3 separate regions of the Homo sapiens genome follow, and regions 1 and 2 are each linked to region 3. The links come from fine-mapping of genetic effects on gene expression. A gene starts in region 3. Each other region holds a variant in brackets. All regions are shown on one strand. Distances are from middle to middle.

What was found. PIP is the estimated chance that this variant, and not a neighbour inherited with it, causes the effect. A credible set is the group of variants that fine-mapping cannot tell apart.
Region 1: its variant is the best candidate, but not a certain one, in a credible set for the expression of GPRC5B in whole blood (TOPMed, PIP 0.77).
Region 2: its variant is the best candidate, but not a certain one, in a credible set for the expression of GPRC5B in whole blood (TOPMed, PIP 0.51).

What each region holds. Positions count from the first base shown.
Region 1 is chr16:19,680,687-19,684,686 of GRCh38, reverse strand. It overlaps VPS35L (VPS35 endosomal protein sorting factor like), which reads right to left. Exons shown (of 31, transcript NM_020314.7): 28 at 2,297-2,462. Among named protein-coding and RNA genes, the nearest start is that of KNOP1, 36 kb to the left of the region's middle. The variant G/A (reference allele first, on the strand shown) is at 2,280.
Region 2 is chr16:19,614,008-19,618,007 of GRCh38, reverse strand. It overlaps VPS35L (VPS35 endosomal protein sorting factor like), which reads right to left. Exons shown (of 31, transcript NM_020314.7): 13 at 1,817-1,894; 14 at 1,200-1,322. Among named protein-coding and RNA genes, the nearest start is that of VPS35L, 60 kb to the right of the region's middle. The variant A/G (reference allele first, on the strand shown) is at 2,364.
Region 3 is chr16:19,882,562-19,886,561 of GRCh38, reverse strand. It overlaps GPRC5B (G protein-coupled receptor class C group 5 member B), which reads left to right and starts at 1,714. Exons shown (of 4, transcript NM_016235.3): 1 at 1,714-1,835. RefSeq lists a silencer at 1,161-1,455 and enhancers at 2,971-3,701, 3,702-4,000.

The DNA.
Region 1 (4,000 bases), 200 kb after region 3:
AGCCCTGGAGTATATCACATTGTCTTTCTGGATCTCCTCTTGCTTACACATCAAATGGGGACATGAATGCCTGTCCTCATAGTAAAGCTGTAAGGATTAAGGGAAAAAGGCCTGTAGAGCCTGATGTAGTCCTTGGCACGCAGTAAGTGCTCAGATCAGGGTAGGCGCCATCATTCTTGCTATGAACCAGCCTCCCTGCATTACATCTTTATCCTCAGTCCCCAGACCCAGCTAGAGAAAGCCTGAGAGGTATGACAGAAGGCAGGCCATCCCTTAAGCACTGCTAATGTGTTCACTGCAACTTGCAAGTGTAGAGTTGGTTTTTTAACTGTAAAGTATACAATTACTGGCCAAAGCACTTTTGACATTAAGACCAATTTTTGGAATCCAAAAATTAGAACTGAGGGTCCGCCAGGCAGGAGGATACTTGGGCTCAGTGGGAAAAGGCCTGGAACTGGGATGTCCTGTGGTAAGTCCAGGACACGAGGAGGCTGCTCCCAACTTGTACTAGCAAGTTCAAAATGTCTGGTAGCAGGTGATCAAGGCCACCTCCTTCCTCCAGAGCACCCAGACAAGGGCTGCTGAGCCTTGGCATCATCTGAGGAGCAGTTGCAAACACCCACACCAGGGTCCTTCCTGAGACTGTGGTAAGGAACAGGCCTGGCACGAAGCTCATGCATGTGTATATTTAGCCATTGTTCCAGTTTATTGTGTAGCACACTGATCCAAAAGAGGGTTCCTCTGAAAAGAGAACACTTAACACTCTGTCAGTGGAAATGCAAATTAGTTCAGCCACTGTGGAAAGCAGTTTTGGAGATTTCTCAAAGAATTGAAAACAGAACTACCATTTGACCCAGCAATCCCATTACTGGGTATATACCCAAAGGAAAATAAATCGTTCTACTGAAAGGACACATGCACACGTATGTTCACTGCAGCACTATTCGCAATAGCAAAAACATAGCATCAACTTAGATGCTCATCAACAGTGGATTGGATAAAGAAAATGTGGTACATACACACAATGGAATACTATGCAGCCCTAAAAAAGAATGAAATCATGGCCTTTGTGGCAACATGGGTGCAACTGGAGGCCATTATCCTAAGTGAACTAGTGCAGAAACAGAAAACTAACTACCGCCATGTTCTCACTTGTAAGTGGGCCCCAAGCATTGGGTACCCATGGGCATAAAGATGGAAACAACAGACATTGGAGACCACTAGAGTGGGGAGGAAGGGGAGGGGACAAGGGCTGAAAAACTACCTATTGGGTACTATCTCATTTGCACCCCAAACCTCAGCATTGCACAATATACCCCTGTCACAAACCTGCACGTATACCTCCTAAATCTAAAATAGAAGTTGAAATTATTATAATTATTTTTTTAAACAGTGTTTCTCCAGACTGGTCTGATGTTCAACATGATCTCAGGTGCTTGTTAAAGATGCAAATTAAGAAGGGAAGGCCAGGTGTGGTGGCTCATGGTTATAATCCCAACACTTTGGGAGGCTGAGACGGGTAGATTACTTGAGCCCAGGCGTTTGAGACCAGCGTAACATGGTGAAACCCCGTCTTCAAAAAAAAATTTAAAAAATTATCCAGGAGCAGTGGCACATGCCTGTATTCCCAGCTACTTGGGAAGCTGAGGTGGGAGGACTGCTTCAGCCTGGGCTGTAAAGGCTGCAGTGGGCCGAGATCACATCACTGCACTCCAGCCTGGGGGACAGAGTGAGACCTTGTCTCAATCAATCAATCAATCAATCAATCAATCAATCAAGGGCAGGATGGGGCTGAAGAATCTGTACTCTTTTTTTTCCTTTTTGGGATGGTGTTTTCACTCTTGTTGCCCAGGCTGGAGTACAGTGGTGCCATCTTGGCTTACTGTAACCTCTGCCTCCCAGGTTCAAGCGATTCTCCTGCCTCAGTCTCCCGAGTAGTTGGGATTACAGGGGTGCACCATCAGGCCTGGCTAATTTTTGTTTTTTTAGTAGAGACAGGGTTTGGCTCTGTTGGCCAGGCTGGTCTGGAACTCTTGACCTCAGGTGATCCGCCTGCCTTGGCCTCCCAAAGTGCTGGGATTACAGGCGTGGGCCACTGCACCCGGCCCAAGAATCTGTACTCTTAAGAGTTGCTCCAGGTAAATCTTAGATCAGGTAAATACAGTGAGACCCTGGACTAGAAGTTCATGGAAGCTAAAATACAAGGGAGGAAAAAATAAAAGAGAAAATGAAAGCATTCTGTCTGCCTTTCATGAAATCCATGCGGAGCATGGTTTGGT[G/A]GGGGAGGCTCTGCTACCTTTGTCTATGTGGTAAAGGTACGTCTCCTGGCTCATGGCGGAGAGGAGATGCAGGACGCAGGTGTAGATGCGGATTTTCTCATCGCTGTTGTCCTCCCAGGTGTAGTCCTGGATCACGTTGAGAAGCTCTCGAACAAGAAACAGGACCCCATGTTCAGGATGATCCTAGCAGAGAACCGAAAAAAGGATAAATAATCCCAAAGATGAAGCAGGGAGGGAAAAAGAAAATCAACACAGAAGCCCAGATCCTCCCGCAGCAGCTGTAGAGAAATTAACGTTGTCAGTTACTGAACAAAGGCAAGACCCACTCACAAGCCTGGTTAAACAATACAGAGGAAAATGACAAAACGTGATTCCCACGAATCAACACGCTCCTGTCTGGGCAAACGAGCTTTGAGAATCCCTTTTTGGATCCCAAAAAGGAGAAGGCAAAGTTACCTGTCAGCTTAATGGCCTGTTTCCAAAATTACACTCTTATTTTTCTGTGGGTGGTGGGAGTTAAAAAAAAAGGAAGCCCTGTTCCAACCACAAAAGCAGGATCGCGGGTATCGTAGCAGATGGAACGGTAGAAGCCACCTACGCTGGGTGAGCCCCCGGATGATCCCTGCCACCACTCGAGGCAGTGACTTTAAATAGAGCCTCACTCTTTGGGATGCTCAACAACGGTAACAGCCAAATGGAGGACGCTCTCTTGGGAGAGGCAAAACCTGAGAGACAGTCACAGAGTTTATAGCAAACAGTGTTTCTCAGATGCTAAACTGAATCTATAAAAAGTTTTGGGGTGTAAAAAAGTAAGCAGCTTCAATTCCATTCCAAAAAGGTGTATGTGAGTCTGGGGATGCCCTGCTGAAAGCTCTCCAGACTTCTCACTCTGTGCAGAAGCTCTGCACGGCCAGCCCCTTCCATGGCCTTGCTAGCCCACCCCATGCGGGTCCCCTTCCCTTACCCCAGCCACATTAAGGTGGGGAGAACAGCACGATTGGAACCCGCAGCGGCAGGGGGAACAGCATGATTGGAACCTGCAGCGGCAAGAGGCCATCTAGCCCAAGATGTAGTCTTGCTTGCAGGAACAAAGCCATCGCCAAAACATGGCCCAGGAGGAATGGGGGAGAAATACCCCAGCCTCGCTTTCCTCCTGCCCTGCATATGCTGCTGCCTCCTACTGGCTGAACAAATTGGGAGCTAGAGGAAGGATAGGTGAGGCAGTCCCCAGAGGCCAGTCTCCCCCACACACAGTAGGACAAAGGGCACAGAGTGGCACCAGGGGCTGGCACACACGTCCAGGTGCTGGCCTCCAGCCAGGCACGTTCTCTCTGACTAGAGTCTGTGCCCCAGGGCTTGGCCAGACGGCTCCTTGGTAGCCTGCAGTTCTCATCTTACACATTAGCTCTTTAATGAGGCCTTCCCTGACATTCCATCTGCAGTCCTCTTACTCTCTCTTCATCACAAATCATCCTGTTTTTTTAGGGGGGGGGCGGGTTCTGAGACAGGGTCTCACTCTGTCACTCTGGCTACAGTACAGTGGCACAATCACAGCTCGCTGGAGCCTTGACTCTGAGCTCAAGCGATCTTCCACCTCAGCCTCCTGAGGTGCTGGGACTACAGGTACATACCACCACGCTTGGCGAATTTCTATTTTTTGTAGAGATGAGGTCTTGCCATGTTGCCCAGGCTGGTCTCAAGGTCCTGGGCTCAAGCGATCC
Region 2 (4,000 bases), 270 kb after region 3:
TCAAGCGATTCTCTGCCTCAGCCTCCTGAGTAGCTGGGACTACAGGCACAAACCACCACGCACAGTTAATTTTTGTATTTTTTGTAGAGACAGGGTCTTTACAAAAGACAGGCCTGGGCAACATAGTGAAACTCCATCTCTACAAAAAAATACAAAAAATTAGCCAGGCATGGTGATATACACCTATATATCCATGTTAGCCAGGCTGGTCTTGAACTGCTGGCCTGAAGTGAACTACCCACGTCAGCCTCCCAAAGTGCTGGGATTACAGGCATGAGCCACCGTGCCCGGCCTATCACAGTCTTCATGACAGTTTGAATTGGTGTTCTACTAAAACTGCTTCTCAGTCTTGGAAAAGAAAGAAAATATGTGTCTGCTATGATTCTGATGTCACTTCAATTCCTGACAATACTTCAACTGGCAAAAAAGAAAAAAGAAAAGAAAAATAAAATTATAAAAGAAATTAAGCATCTGAGTTTTGTTTTCCTTCCATAAAATACCTGCTCTACAGACTTTATTGGATTATTATAAACACAAAAGGGGTACATGAAGGTTAAGTGAAGACGCAATAAGGCTTGTTGGCCCTGGAGCCCAATTCTATGGGTTTGTATCAAGTCACCAACCATCTTCCTTTTTGTTTCTTTTTTAATGAGACAGTGTCTTGCTCTGTCACTCAGGCTGGAGTGCAGTAGTACAGTCACAGCTCATTGTAGCCTTGAACTCTGGGGCTCAAGTGGTCCTCCCACCTCAGCCTCCTGAGTAGCTGGGACTATAGGCATATATCACCGTGTCTGGCTAATTTTTTCTATTTTTTTGTAGAGATGGAGTTTTGCTATGTTGCCAAAGCTCGTCTCAAACTCCTAAAATCAAGTGATCCTCCCACCTTGGCCTTGCAAAGTGCTGGGATTACAGATATGAGCACACCCAGCCACCAAACTGCTTTCTAGCTGTGTGGCCTCACTTAGGTACATGGCCTCTGGAGCTACCACATTCCCCTTCCACAGCTGTCAAAATGAGACTATCTCAGAAAAGCACTCAGCACAGAGCCAGCCACCATGGCAAGCCCTCTATAAAGGCTGGCTAGCACTAACATTGCTATAGCTGTTATGAAAGGGTCCCATTAACGTTAAAGGGCACAGTGGGCAGGGGCTGTCACCATACAGGAGGTGAGCGTCACACTGAAGCCACCTGGCAGTTACCTCGGGGGCATGGTAGGAGATGCACTGGAAGATCCAGTCCATGGCAGGCGGGTACAAGGGGAGGTAAGATGGGAGCTCCACTCCTTGGACCACCAGCTGGTTCTGGACCGTATCCCCATGAATCTACAGGAGGCCAAACAAACACTTAGAAAAGGAGGGGAAAAACCAAACAACAAACAAAACATACACAACTCACAGACTGTGCATACTTGTAAGCATGTGGACAGCCCTGAGAGAAATAGCCTGGTTTCTCGGTTGTTTTTTTTTTTTAAACCAAAAAAAAACACAGAAAGTTTCTCATGTCACCAAGCCGAGCTGTTTTGGGAATGAGCGCTGTGGAAAGCAGGAACCTGATAAAAATGGAGCCAGCAGATGCTCAGAAGCAAGGCTGATCGACTGGAGACGTTTCCTGTTAACACATGCATATTAACTTTCTCCGCTTATTCAGTACAATCAACACATTTTAATTGTCTACAACAGAAGCTAGTGTAATTTTCCAGGGCTTGCACATTTAAAGAGCTTTAAGGCATTCTCCACTTGGAAAACCAACTGGGTTTTGTGAATTTGCTATCATAGAACTGTTATATCGATGAGCTATTCTGATAGTGTTCTCTTACCTGTTTGAACGTAAGGAGGAAGTCAAAAAAGTTCTTATTTAGGGTTTCTTTGAGATGTGGGGCCACTTCCATTCCCACCTGCAGCCAGACAAATGGAAAAACTGGTTGCAAATAATGACTATAGTATGATTTTATTTTTGGAAATTAAAAAATATATATACCTATGTTTATAGACACAGAAAAAGTCCAGAAAATTATTATTATTATTATTATTATTATTATTTTGAGATGGAGTCTCGCTCTGTTGCCAGGCTGGAGTGCGGTGGGTGCGATTTCAGCTGACTGCAACCACCGACTCCCTGGTTCAAGGGATTCTCCTGCCTCAGCCTCCCGAGTAGCTGGAATTACAGGCATGTGTCACCAGGCCTGGCTGATTTTTGTATTTTTAGTAGAGACAGGGTTTCACCACATTGGCCAGGATGGTCTTGATCTTCTGACCTCATGATCTGCCCACCCTGGCCTCTCAAAGTGCTGGGATTACAGGTGTGAGCCACAGCGCCCGGCCTATTTTTTTTTTCCTTATCTGTTTTTTGTTTTGTTTTGAGAC[A/G]GAGTCTCGCTCTGTTGCCCAGGGTGGAGTGCAGTGGCACGATCTTGGCTCACTGCAACCTCCACCTCTCAGGTTCAAGCAATTCTCCTGCCTCAGCCTCCCAAGTAGCAGGGATTACAGGCATGTGTCACGACACTTGGCTAATTTTTGTATTTTTAGTAGAGACGGGGTTTCACCATGTTGGCCGGGCTGGTCTCCAACTCCTGACCTCAGATGATCTGCCTGCCTCGGCCTACCAAAGTGCTGGGATTACAGGTGTGAGCCACCACGCCCAGCCTGATTTCTTTTTCAATAAACATGTATTGCTTTTATAAGAAAGACCACAGAAGCTATTTTTAATAAAAAAGGGCAACATTTGCAGAAATCATCTTTGCCCTTCCCCAAAGGTATTGAATGTATTTCTGAACAGACGACCAAGAGAACAAATCAATACAGAACTAAAAAGGAATGTACTCTCAAGATTGTGCATACAATAAAAAAATGATAAACACACATGGGGTTGTACTTATTAGACCAAGCACAAAGATTACGGTACGTGAGAAAGTCAGCTTGAATTCCAGATGTGGTGCTGCCCCCGTTACATGCTTAGTTAAAAGCTATACAAATTCATTCTTTGCAAGGCAGAGATAAGAGCAGACATAAATTTTAATACATTTTATGCAATTTTATATAACATGAGCATGAAGTGTAACAATGCTATAATCCACTGGGTCCTGACTTCATTGTTAAAAAACAGACTGTAACATTTCTAGCTGAAGAAATTTACTAATCATAGAGAAGGTGCCAGTACTGGGGTTAGATGGAAAAGTAGAGGGATGAGCTACGGAGGGGAGTTCATAGGTTTAAAACACAACATCACAGTGTTTCTTAAACTGAGCTCCTCAGAAATGCTTCGTTTCCAAATTGCTGCTTAACCGCAAAAACAACTTCGTAGGCTGGGCTGCAGTGGCTCACACCTGTAATCCCAGCACTTTGGGAGGCCCAGGTGGGCCAATCACTTGAGGTTAGGAGTTTGAGACCAGCCTGGTCAACATGGTGAAACTCTTTCTGTACTAAAAACACAAAAATTAGCCGGGTGTGGTGGCGCACGCCTGTAGACCCAGCTACCTGGGAGGTTGAGGTGGGAGGATCGCTTGAACCCGGGAGGTGGTGGTTGCAGTGAGCAAGATTGTGCCACTGCACTCCAGCCTGGGCAACAAAGTGAGACTGGTTCCCTATTTCTTCAAATGGGGAGAGATTTCTCCCATTCACCTTCCACTACCCAGAGGTCATGATGGGTAACACTAATAATGTTTTTCAGATGGCATTTGAGAACCACCAGGGTGTTAAATTCCAAGAGCAGCTCTGTGATTGCTGGGTACAGGAAGTGCTGTTTTCAAGGACAAGCACATAGATTAAATATATATATATATGCTAACAAGAAATATCAGATCCAGTTCTACAGTGTTCTGATTCTCCTTCCACTTAATCATATTGTAGAAAAGACAATAATTATCTGTTAGGTGACAGCAAAGGCTGGCCTGGTGGCTGAGCCATGGAGATGAGCTGAAGCGGCTGTGAGTTAGGAGTTAATCATACCTTCCTTTAATAACAGCTTCAAGCTCCCCCCACGCTCTACCCACTCAGAGCTTTTGTTT
Region 3 (4,000 bases):
AGGCATGTGCGATGAAAAAGATCTCCATTTTGCAGACGTTGAGGACATGTGGCTCACGAAAGTGAACTTGCCCACGTTGACAAAAGGATCTCGGCGTCAGTTCCAAGAGCTGCCACCAGGTGACAGTGCCCATCCACTTTCCAATTGCGCAGTCTGGCGGGAACACACTTTGGGTCGTCCCGCAAACATTTAATGAGCGCCTACTGTGCCTGGAACTGTTCTGGGCTCTGAGGATCCATGCAAATAAACCAGGAGTGGGGCGAAAAACTGCCATTATGGTTCTTCCTTTCCATTTTCCCTTGAATATAATAAAAGGTATCCCAGAGATGCGTGCCCAAGGGGGATGTGGCCTAACCGGACCGGAACTGGGAGGCTGGCAGGGAGGGATGGGAGTATCTGGAAGGGCCACGGTCCCCAAAGATCAGGGGCTGCCACTATTCCCAGAAGGAGGTGTTCTGCATCTCCCCTTCCTGCAGCCCCCGGGAGAGGGGAGCAGGGGTCCGTCCTATCCCTTTTGGTCTTATGTGGCTGGGATGGTTGCGGCGACGGGGGTAGAGATTGGGGGGCGCACCGCGGAGGGAGAAAGGAAATCTCACCCTGAGAATCTGGAGTGCAGGGAAGGGATGCTGCTCAAAGGTCTGTTTCTGGCTTTGGCGGGGGGCCACCTGAGACTGCCAGGGTTTGATGGTCTGAAGGTCACCCAGGGAACCAGCCCCATATGGGGTGCCGGAGCGCAGCTCCCAGGCCTGGTCGAAGCAATGCGACCTCGGAGAGGCCTGAGGACTAGGACGGGGTGAGGGGGACTCAGAGACGGCTGCCCCGGACCCCTCCTTCAAGCAGGTCCCACGGCCGCCCAGCGGACACGCGTCCGGGCTGTGCCCTGACCGTCTGCGGAGCGCACGGCCAGTGGCCCGGGCCGCTGAGTGTGTGAGCCCTGAAGGGCAGTGGACATGTGCGTACGTGGGTGATGTGTGCGGTAGGGGTGGTGGCGATCCTGCGTAGGGACCCACGTGAGGGGTGCACCGACTGGACGTGTGTGTTTCGAGGGGCCAAGGAAGCGGGTGTTGGTCCCAGTGTGCGTAAACGGACAACGACATCTGGGAGTTGGGCAGTGAGGAGAGAGAAGAGTGTGTCCAGGAGGAACCTGCCTGGAGGAGGCCTAGCGGTGTGTGTGCGCCTAGGTGTATACCGGGGCGTTGGTGACTTCGAGAGGCACCGGGCGGGATCGATCCTCTCTGCGTCCTGGACCTGGTGCTGGTGTGTTTCGGGGAAGTTACTGCTTATGAACCCCCCTTGGAGCGTGGCCTGGGGGCAGGAAGGCTTCCGCGCTGGGACCCCTGGGTCGCGATACCTCCCTCGGTAAGTGTATTGGCTAGGGGAGTGTTCCCGCAAATGGATCTACCCTGGGGAGTTGCCCGGCTCGTCTGGACTGCTTACGGGCGCACTGACGTTGTGGGGGGAATGTCCCCGAATTGGGGGCACGAGGTCGGGGGAATCGTCTCTGAGATCCGGGCTAGAAGCTACGAGCTTGGGCTCCGGGGGTGCATGCAGACGGCGCCTAGCCCCGCGCGGAACCGCCGGCGGGACCGGGGGTGGGGCTCGGAGGCCCGGGGGCGGGGCCGGCCGGGGGCGGGGGCGGGGGCGGGGCCGCGGCCGCTGCAGCAGCGCGGGCCGGGCCAGGGGGCGCCTCGCGCGGCAGCGACTCTGGCAGGCGCTGCAGTGAAGCTGGACCCGCAGGCGGGCGTGCGTGGAGCGGGGGCCGCGGCCGCGCCGCAGAGATGTGACTCGGGCCGAAGGCCAGCTGGAGCGTCGGCGCTGCGGGGCCGCGGGGGTCGGTAAGTGCGAGCTGCGCCGATGCAGTGGAGGACGCTGTGGGGACCCCAGAAACTTTTCCCGCCGTGGATTTGGGAGAATTGGGGGGTCCGCTTCTTGTGTTTTTCTAAGCGCCCCCCCAACCCAAGCCAGGGAGTTTATTGCTGGGGGAGATGTGGAATCTGGGCGAGGGGAACCACGGTGCGACGAGAGCAGAGCCGTAGAGGGGTGGGCGGGGGAGGGGAGGATCTGGGGACCTTTACGGGGGGAGGGAGACTGTGCCCGGACCAGGTAGAGATCCAAGTCTCCCAGGAGGGTGTGGGGGCGACCACAGGTGAAGGGCAGCTGGGAGGGTAAAGGAGCCCAGCCGTGTCCTAGTGACTCGTCATGTGTGAGGAGCTGCGGGCTGGTCCTGGGGCCGCGTTGGGGGCTGACTGTGGACAGGGCAGACGCAGCCGGGGGCACAAGGGCTGGACTTTGGGGGTGAACAGCCGCACCTGTCGCGGGGGCTGGGGGTCAAGCCCGCAGCCGGCTTGAGTGCGCATTACTCAGCAAGGGGAGGGGGGGACACGGCGGTGGGAGATGGCAGAGCTGAGACCTGGGCTGGGGACGAATGACGGGGAGGGGTGGGGAGGAGGGGGCGGCTGCATACAATGGCGGGGGGGGCAGTGGCGTTTCCCTTCCAGACAGGGGGCACTTGGACCTCTGGAAGAGGCGGCTAGGCTGGAGATAAGGACTAGACCTGTTCTCGGTCCCCTCTCCTTGGGGGACACAGGCTTCCAGCCCCACAAGGACCCCACACATCCCGGGGTCCCTAGCGCTTAGGCCGAAAAGGGAGCGCGCGGGAGGAGCCCGCACCCGCCTTGGCCCCGGGCAGCCGGTTGAACAGCCTGGGAAGGGGCCAACGACCTTGCCCCAGAAATCTCCCCCGTGCAGCGGGTTCACTCCTCCGTCCTTGCTCTGTCACACCCAGGCCTAGCCAGTCCTCCCTTTCCGTCCCCCGTTCGCTAAGGGGGCGGCTCCTTGGAGCGCGGACAAAGGCCCCTGGAGTGTGGCGGGCAGCGGCGTCCCCGCCTGGGGCCCCAGCCCACGCGCCACATTGGCCGCCCAACTGCACCAGGCCGGGGGGCACCTGAACAGAGCCCAGAAAGCCCTGGGGGACCCCGCAAAGACAAGAGAAGTGGGGGAGGGATCTGGCACAAAAACCCCGGCACTTCAGCCAAGGAACCTTCTTAATTCAGAAGTTTCTTCGGTGGGGACTCGGGCTTGCGGAGGATCCAGGCTTTGAGTTAAACTGCATGCAAATGACATGTAAATAGAATGCAAATTGGCATCTGTCGTTTGGAAGCCCTCCCGGCCAGTTTGGTATCTAAGACTGTGGAGTGAACAGTTTGCTATCTGCTCCCTGCTCTAAGCCTGGAAAGGGGTCAGCTGAGTTGGGAAGGGAAGGAGATTCCAGGAGGAAGGAGCCGCCATTTGGGGGCACAGGCAGCAAGACAGGCAGTTTTGTTAGAAAGATAAACTCAGAATCTTTACTGGATTAATATGTTATTTCAAGAAACGTGCCAGGGACAGAACTGGGTGCCTTGTATAAAACGGACAAAACCCCTGCTCTCCCGGGGCTGGGGAAGTGAGTGGACAAACATTAAACAAACCCATAGCAAATGGCTATGAAATCCGATTGGGGTGAGGACGGCCAGGAAAATAAGATGGGGTGATGTAAAAGAAGGTGACAGGGGTGTATGTACCTGAGATGACTGTTCCGGGAGTGACATTTGAGTGGAGCCCAGCTAGAAGAGGGGCCCTCCGCTGGGAGGTCTTGGAGGAAGACTGAACCAGGAGGAAGGCACTGTGCCTGCAAAAGCTTGGAGGTGGGAATGAGCTTAGAGGAACTGAACAAAGGCCATTGTGGCTGGAGCTGTAGGCAGATTTGGGGGTGGGGATAGGGGAATGGTAGGGACCAGCCAGATCATGATCTTTTGGGTCATGGAAAGGAGTTTAGGGTTTATTCTGTTTGGACCAGTGAACCCTTGGAGGGTTTTGAGTGGGAGGCCATGGGATCTGATTTGTAGAAGCTCCCCTGACGTTGACAAGGAAATGGAAAATAGCCCCCCTTTCCATTCTGCCCATGGGGATAGAGAGACGCTGGGAGCCTCCAAGGGGCTCTGTCCAGCCTTGGGGGACCGCT